Linked DNA regions of Homo sapiens. The protein of the gene in region 1 interacts with the protein of each later gene in a pairwise test. Each region holds a gene or a part of one and is shown in the gene's direction. Other genes may lie near its edges.

What was found. The genes of interacting proteins can lie anywhere in the genome.
Region 2: the proteins of AQP9 (region 1) and SERINC1 interact in binary tests that used the Homo sapiens proteins (3 or more experiments, as listed by UniProt).

The regions. Positions count from the first base shown.
Region 1 is NC_000015.10:58,183,204-58,186,589, forward strand, and holds the end of AQP9 (aquaporin-9), read left to right. Parts: intron 1-757; coding exon 758-932; 3' UTR 933-2,708; downstream 2,709-3,386. UniProt on the Homo sapiens protein: Aquaglyceroporins form homotetrameric transmembrane channels, with each monomer independently mediating glycerol and water transport across the plasma membrane along their osmotic gradient.
Region 2 is NC_000006.12:122,470,443-122,474,042, reverse strand, and holds the start of SERINC1 (serine incorporator 1), read left to right. Parts: upstream 1-2,235; 5' UTR 2,236-2,305; coding exon 2,306-2,344; intron 2,345-3,600.

The DNA.
Region 1 (3,386 bases):
GTATATATCCTTAAACAATATACTGTATAATTTGTTTGCTTTCCTGATCCTTTCTAAGAAATTATTTACATGGATTTTCTCTCTCCAAAGAAGATGGTGACAACTCACAAAGATACCTGCTTTTCCCCAGAACTATAGCTTTGCTGTAATGTACTAACATTGAGGATTTCTGGAAGAGAGAGAGCCATGGCATGACAGCCTTATCAGAGGGTAGCCTCAAGCTAAGATCTTAAAAAATAAGTACTGATTTAAATTATATTTAGAAGGCAATTCACACATCCACCTTAGATTTTTTAAAAATTCATTCATTCATTGAAAAACATTTCCTGATTGATTAGTTTGATTGTCCTCATACACTAATGATGCCCAGGAATCTCTCCACATTCTGCTTGTAATCCACAGGAATCATTATTTCAGGATGAGGGAAAGGCAATTCTGAATAATTGACCTGAACTTTCTTAGGGGCCCTCAATCTTAACGATGGGCTCAGGCACTATATTTTATAAAAAGAAAATAAATAAGACATAATATCTCACAAATATTAGTAGGACAATTAAATAGATCATCTGAAATCAGGTGTAGTGGAAAGTCAAGGATGGCAGTTGCCATGCTGCACTGAGCCCCCCTTATACTTAGCTCTTGCTGAGTTAAGAGGGAACCATGAGTGTGAGAAAGACTAACAAGTGAGTGAAAAACTAGACAGTAATACCAGGAGGAAGGCCAAGAAATGTATCACTAATTTCTTGTTTGATTTCAGAGCTGGAAACAACTTCTGGTGGATTCCTGTAGTGGGCCCTTTGGTTGGTGCTGTCATTGGAGGCCTCATCTATGTTCTTGTCATTGAAATCCACCATCCAGAGCCTGACTCAGTCTTTAAGACAGAACAATCTGAGGACAAACCAGAGAAATATGAACTCAGTGTCATCATGTAGTGGCATGCTCAGCTCTGGATTTGCAGTCAGTTTGGGATTCTCTTCAGAAAGATGGCATCTAAGTGTCTGTGTTCTTGTAAGCCTGAGGTGGAATCCACCCAGTTTTGTCTGCTAGCCATATGGGACATCTAATTGGAAAAGCATCTGCATAAAAGTTTGGAAACAATGACCACTTCTCTACCATTGTCCCCCACCCCCACCCCCCAGAATAACGCTGACTGTCCCCTGAAACAGCCTTCTCTCCTGCCCTGTTTATTTCATCCTCGATGGGAATTCTTGCTAGGTAAGCACTAATAACTCGGCATCTTGACGATAGTCCCATTTGGGTGGTTTCAGCTGCACTATCTGTATGAAATGGTGTCACCAAAACCCTTTTCTTCAGTATCGACAAAGATTACATTCTGAGTACCAACCAAACCCTAAATTGAAAGACAAAACTATGGTTTCAGTCAACATATTCATGAATTAGGGAGCTAATGGGTTAAGCTTCCAGTTCCCGCTATGCTACTGGATTTGTATAAATACTGATATTCTCCAAACCTAGTGGTGTAGGGAGCAAGAGAATGCAGCTGGAAGGCACAAGGGGAGGACATTGTGGCATTCAGAAACTGCAGGAGACAAGATGAATTTGAGAAGCCAAATGGAATTTTTAATGGAAACCATTTATCAGATTAATCTCTTGCTCTCCTGCATTTTAGAGGACACCAATTAATTTCCTGGTCTTTAGTATATAATAACCTAAAATACCATTGTAACCTCAGTCATGAAAAATACATCACTCTGTCTTTTTAGCTCAAATGTATTTTCCTAATTGCCCACTTGAGAACAGACATTTGACAAGTTATATCAACGACTGTGCTTGTCCATTATTTTACACATGCCCTAGAAGCCAAAACTGAAAGCCACTGGATCCTGGTCTAGCTGAATCTTCAGAGTGGGAGGTCTCCAAAAAGATATTACCTTATTGGGCTTAACAATTCACAAGGCACTTTCACACCCATTATCTAATTTAATCCTCATAATGACTATGTGAGGCAAATGCCACATTGCCCATTTTTCAGATAAAGAAACAAAATCTTAGGGAAGATAAGTTGAGTTGTCCAAGAGCACACTGAAAGTTGAATGTTATCTAATGCATTCCTCTACCTTTCAGAAGATCAGTAGCTGGCTGACAATCTTTGCCAAATCTTCCTTGCTAGCCAGAAGTGGAATTGGCAGCTTCTAGAATATGTACACCTCTGGACAAAATGTTCCTCAATCTTAAGATACAAAGACCCTCATTGTCTGGGTCTATTCCCACACTTACTGAGTACAGATGAAGGAAAGTGGTAGCAATTTAATCATAACTTTCATTTGCTGAAAAACATTATGAGAAGGCCTCCCTTCCTAAGCCACCTCTGGTCTTGCTAAGTCTTGATCTTGCTTCCTGCCAGCACCAAACATTACATTCAGGGGATTTCCTCTGGCTCAGTCTTTTCCCCTTGAAGTTCTCTAATAGATGTTACTTTTGACAAAAGATCGCCTATGAGTTACAAGCACCAGGGGATGCTCTACATCAAGGGATGCACCTTCAGTCAAACTGTCAAAAAGCCCAGAATTCCCAAAGGCATTAGGTTTCCCAACTGCTTTGTGCTGATATCAGAACAGCAGAAATTAAATGTGAAATGTTTCTGATGACTTATGTTCTACAATCTATGGACATACGGGATTTTTTTTTCTTGCTTTGAAGCTACCTGGATATTTCCTATTTGAAATAAAATTGTTCGGTCATTGTTGGTTGCTTGGTTGGTTTTTATAAGTATTAAGATTACTAAGTACGTCTAGTTCAGAGGTTGTCTATTGTGTCTACAAATTTGAATTTCCTGGGGGAACTTTTGAAAAAATACTGGTGCCCAGTTGGTCCTTTGTAAACATCTCAGGTGATTCTAAAATGCAGCAAGGGTTGAGAACATTGACTTGGGTAAATCACACGGGTCTAAAGTTTCTTTGACCATGTCCAGTAGTGGCCAGGTAATTCCTAGCAGGATTCCAGAGTCTTGGGATCCTCATGGATTAGAGCAATGGTTTTCCTCCCTCCCTACTTCTAAAGGGAACATGTGGCAATATTTGGAGACTTTTATGGTTATCACAACTGGGAAGGGGATGCTAATGGCCTCTAGTGGCTAGAGGCCAGGGATGCTGCCAAATATCCTACAATGCAAAGGCAACCCTCCCAACAGGTAATTATTTGGCCCAAAATGTCAATAATGCTGAGGTTCGGAGATCTTGGTGTCGAGGAAAGGTAGGGAGGGGAGTAAGAGAAGACACTGAAATCCTGCACCTTGATTCAAGTTCAGTCAGGAGCAAAGGTGCCAGACAAACCAGGAACAAACCCTGGGGGTGGACTATAATTCTTAAAGCAAGAGGCAATTCAAAATTTGAGTTTTGAGGATGAACTGTGGAATCTATGATCTA
Region 2 (3,600 bases), on another chromosome or scaffold:
TCCAGCCTCAGCCTCCTGAGTAGCTGGGATTACAGAGGTGTGCCACCATGCCCTGCTAATTTTTGTATTTTTAGTAGAGACAGGTTTTCGCCATGTTGGCCAGGCTGGTCTGGAACTCCTGACCTCAGGTGATCTGCCCGCCTCAGCCACCTAAAGTGCTAAGATAATGGGTGTGAGCCACCATGCTCAGCTAGATAGAATGTTTTTTACTAACGTACTTACTTAGACTAATTTGAATTTTGGCATTGTAAGTTATACGTGTGCTACAGGAAGTCACCTGGAGAAATGGGTGCTCCTACTAATAGCTGGTATATATTGAGAAAACTATGCTTTGAGCTGTGTTTGGGTTGAAATTTGAAAAAGTCATCATTTCAATTTTCTTTCATAGTTGGCAAAGAGAAAAATGAGACTGGTGTCGAAGACTCTTCTAACGAATAAAATAGTCTATATATACTGTCGTGTCCAATTAATGTTGTATATATAATAACTTAAGTGAGCAAATTCCACTCCACATAGCCTACAGGTTAAATAAAAGTAAATTTTTTTTAATGTATTTCAAGGCCAAGTGTTACATTCCAGAAAGATTAATATGACTTTTGTATTTAACTCTGAATATCTCAGGTGAAAAAACTCTATTGAATAGTGCAAGAACTTATGAATATCTCAGAAACCCTCTTAAATGGAGCAAGAGACAAGAATCTGTGCAAATTTAAATTTTAAGAGACCCATTCTCCATTTGGCTAATAAACATATTCTTTACGACCTTAAAGTTACTCACATATAAGTGTTTTTTGTCTCCTTCTCTGGTACTTTGAAAAGTTTAAGGACTTGAGATACTAGGATTCTCTTCTCCCATAAATAACGTATTAAGTTTAGCATAATTAAAAATATTGTTAGGTTTGTAATTTCCATTTCCACTATTCTTTTTTTTTGAGACGGAGTCTCGCTCTGCAGCCCAGGCTGGAGTGCAGTGGCCCAATCTCGGCTCACTGCAACCTCTGCCTCCCGGGTTCAAGCAGTTCTCCTGCCTCGCCTCCCGAGTAGCTGGGATTACATGCGCGTGCCACCATGCCCGGCTAATTTTTTGTATTTTTAGTAGAGATGGGGTTTCACCATGCTGGCCAGGCTGGTCTTGAACTCCTGGCCTTGTGACCCGCCTGCCTCAGCCTCCCAAAGTTCTGGGATTACAAGCATTTCCACAATTCTTTAAACCTTATGGATGCTCTATTATAATACTTTGCTTTAAGAGTGGTCTACAAAACCACAGATAAGGCAAAGAAGAATAAAGCAAGATTGTCCCTTAGTGGTTACAATAACTAGGAGTAGGGATTCTGACATTCTTCCAGATTCTTAGGTGTTTACCCCACCTCGACCCATGCAATTTTTGTAGATTTTACAACACTTTCTTATTATTAGTTATGGGAATGACTATTTCAAGTTTGAGCTGTTTCCCAGAATATTTTCAAGAACAAATAACTCTAAAAAAATAACTGGAACTTTTATAGGAATGCATTCCCTGCAGATGTGCATCATCACCTAATATGCAAGGGTTCCACATGCCTCAACAGCTCATGACATTCGAAATCAATGTTTGAGTTTGATAATGTCTTATCTAACTAATTAAAAATAATTTTAACGTGCAAATTTCTTGTAACATCTTAATAGCATAAGAAATTAAAATATAAGTCAATAGCAAACAGAAATGATACAGAGAAACTGAAGCACACAGATGAATATAAATATCCCAATAAAACTTGTTCCGGGCAGCGGGCTGCAGGAATACGTTGCAAACGCAAGAGCAAAACAGGATGCAAACGTGGGAAAAATGGGAAATAAGTGGAGTTAGGACGGACAAAGACTGAGAAAGAGGAAGCAATCCCCTAAAAAGCAGAGAGGTTCCTCAGATGAAGGAGGGCAAAACGTCAACCACCACCTCAGCTCTGTTCTCTACTAATGCCCAAATGCAAGTGCATGGTAGGTAAAGGTGGGTTTTGCTCACACCGTTTTCTTAATTTGGCAAACTACGGTCAGATCCACATTAGCCGTTAAGTTTCCAGCCAGCAGTCCTTGAGAAATTCTCCAGGAAAGAAGACAGCCGTGTCGTCTAGTGACGCGCATGCGCAGTCTCAGCGCTGCGCGCTCCGTGTTTTATCCTACCCAGGCCTGGAAGGAAGTGACGCGAGGCTGAGGGGCGGGTTGCGCTGTGCGTCCGGAAGTGTCTCGCAGATAGTAAATAATCTCGGAAAGGCGAGAAAGAAGCTGTCTCCATCTTGTCTGTATCCGCTGCTCTTGTGACGTTGTGGAGATGGGGAGCGTCCTGGGGCTGTGCTCCATGGCGAGCTGGGTAAGGTGCTTTTTGCGGCCTCTGGGGTGCTAGTGTGAGAGACCAAAGAGAAGGCGATCCGAGCCGGGGCTGGGTGAGCCCGGCGGGAATGTGGTGCCCCACCCAACAGGGAGTGCCCTCTCTGTCCCCGTTTTCTTCCCGTCTCCTCTCGTCACTCAGACTCAGCTTCAGAGCTTTGGGTCTTGCGAAGAACTGATCACTGGCCGTAAGGTTTAGTGGCGATGGGAAGATGACTCAAATTGAGGAAGAGAACTAGAATAGGGCCCCTCCCCCACCCCTGCTTCGTGAACGCTGTCTCCCATTCTTTGAGGTCCCTTTTCGTGGTTTTGTTTGTATCTGCGCAGGCCATCTCTACAAAGGTCTTTGCCCCTTTCCTTCGGTGGGGTACCCACTCTGTTGTCATCTCTTTCCTGGCGACCTCAGACTGCCGCACTGTCGTTCCTGGATTCATGTCGCCCTCTTTGTTCAGTGGCGCAGATTATGATTAAAAAGTGCCTGTCGTCATTTGGAACCGCCTGGCAGTAATGCTAATGTAGTAATATTGTTTTTGAAACAAATAGTCATAGCTCTGCCGTAACTGTTTGAAGTGTCAATTTCAGATTTCAACTTAAAATTGAAATTTCAGATGACACACGCATGCCTTGTGCCTAATGACAATTTTGTCTTTAGGCACAAAACATGCGTGTGTCATCTGAAATTTCATGCTTAATTAGCTGTACATTGCATTTTCATTAAAGAGTTGTTAGAGTAAAACTATTTTCAGTATAGTGGCAAGACTTTGGTCCGTGTGGCACAAATTTCAGTTTATTTAAGATAATCTCTGCCCCCTCCAAAATAGTAGGCAAAACATTGGCAGTGCAGTTAATAAAGATATTTGTAATTTTAGGCGAGGTATTTGGACTCAAATCACTTTTCTTTAGTCTGGAATTTGTTAATTCTGTTTCTAACAATTGCTTTTCTGACTTCCCAAATGATTCCGTTATATATACTCTTAAAGGTTTTGATATGTCTTGAACTAAAAATGTTGAATTTTAATCAAATAATAATGTGGGGATTGTTACTCCAGCCAGTCTGTTCTTTTGATTATATGGTATTTCTTCTTGCACGGAAGCCTGGAATATTTTATCTCAAGATATTAGAGAGTTTAATTATTGACTTTTATACAAAAGAGGCATATTTAGTGTGATAAACAGTTTTGAAAACTGATAATTGATTATCATATAAGATTGTTTTCATCGGTTTTTTATTGGAAGATG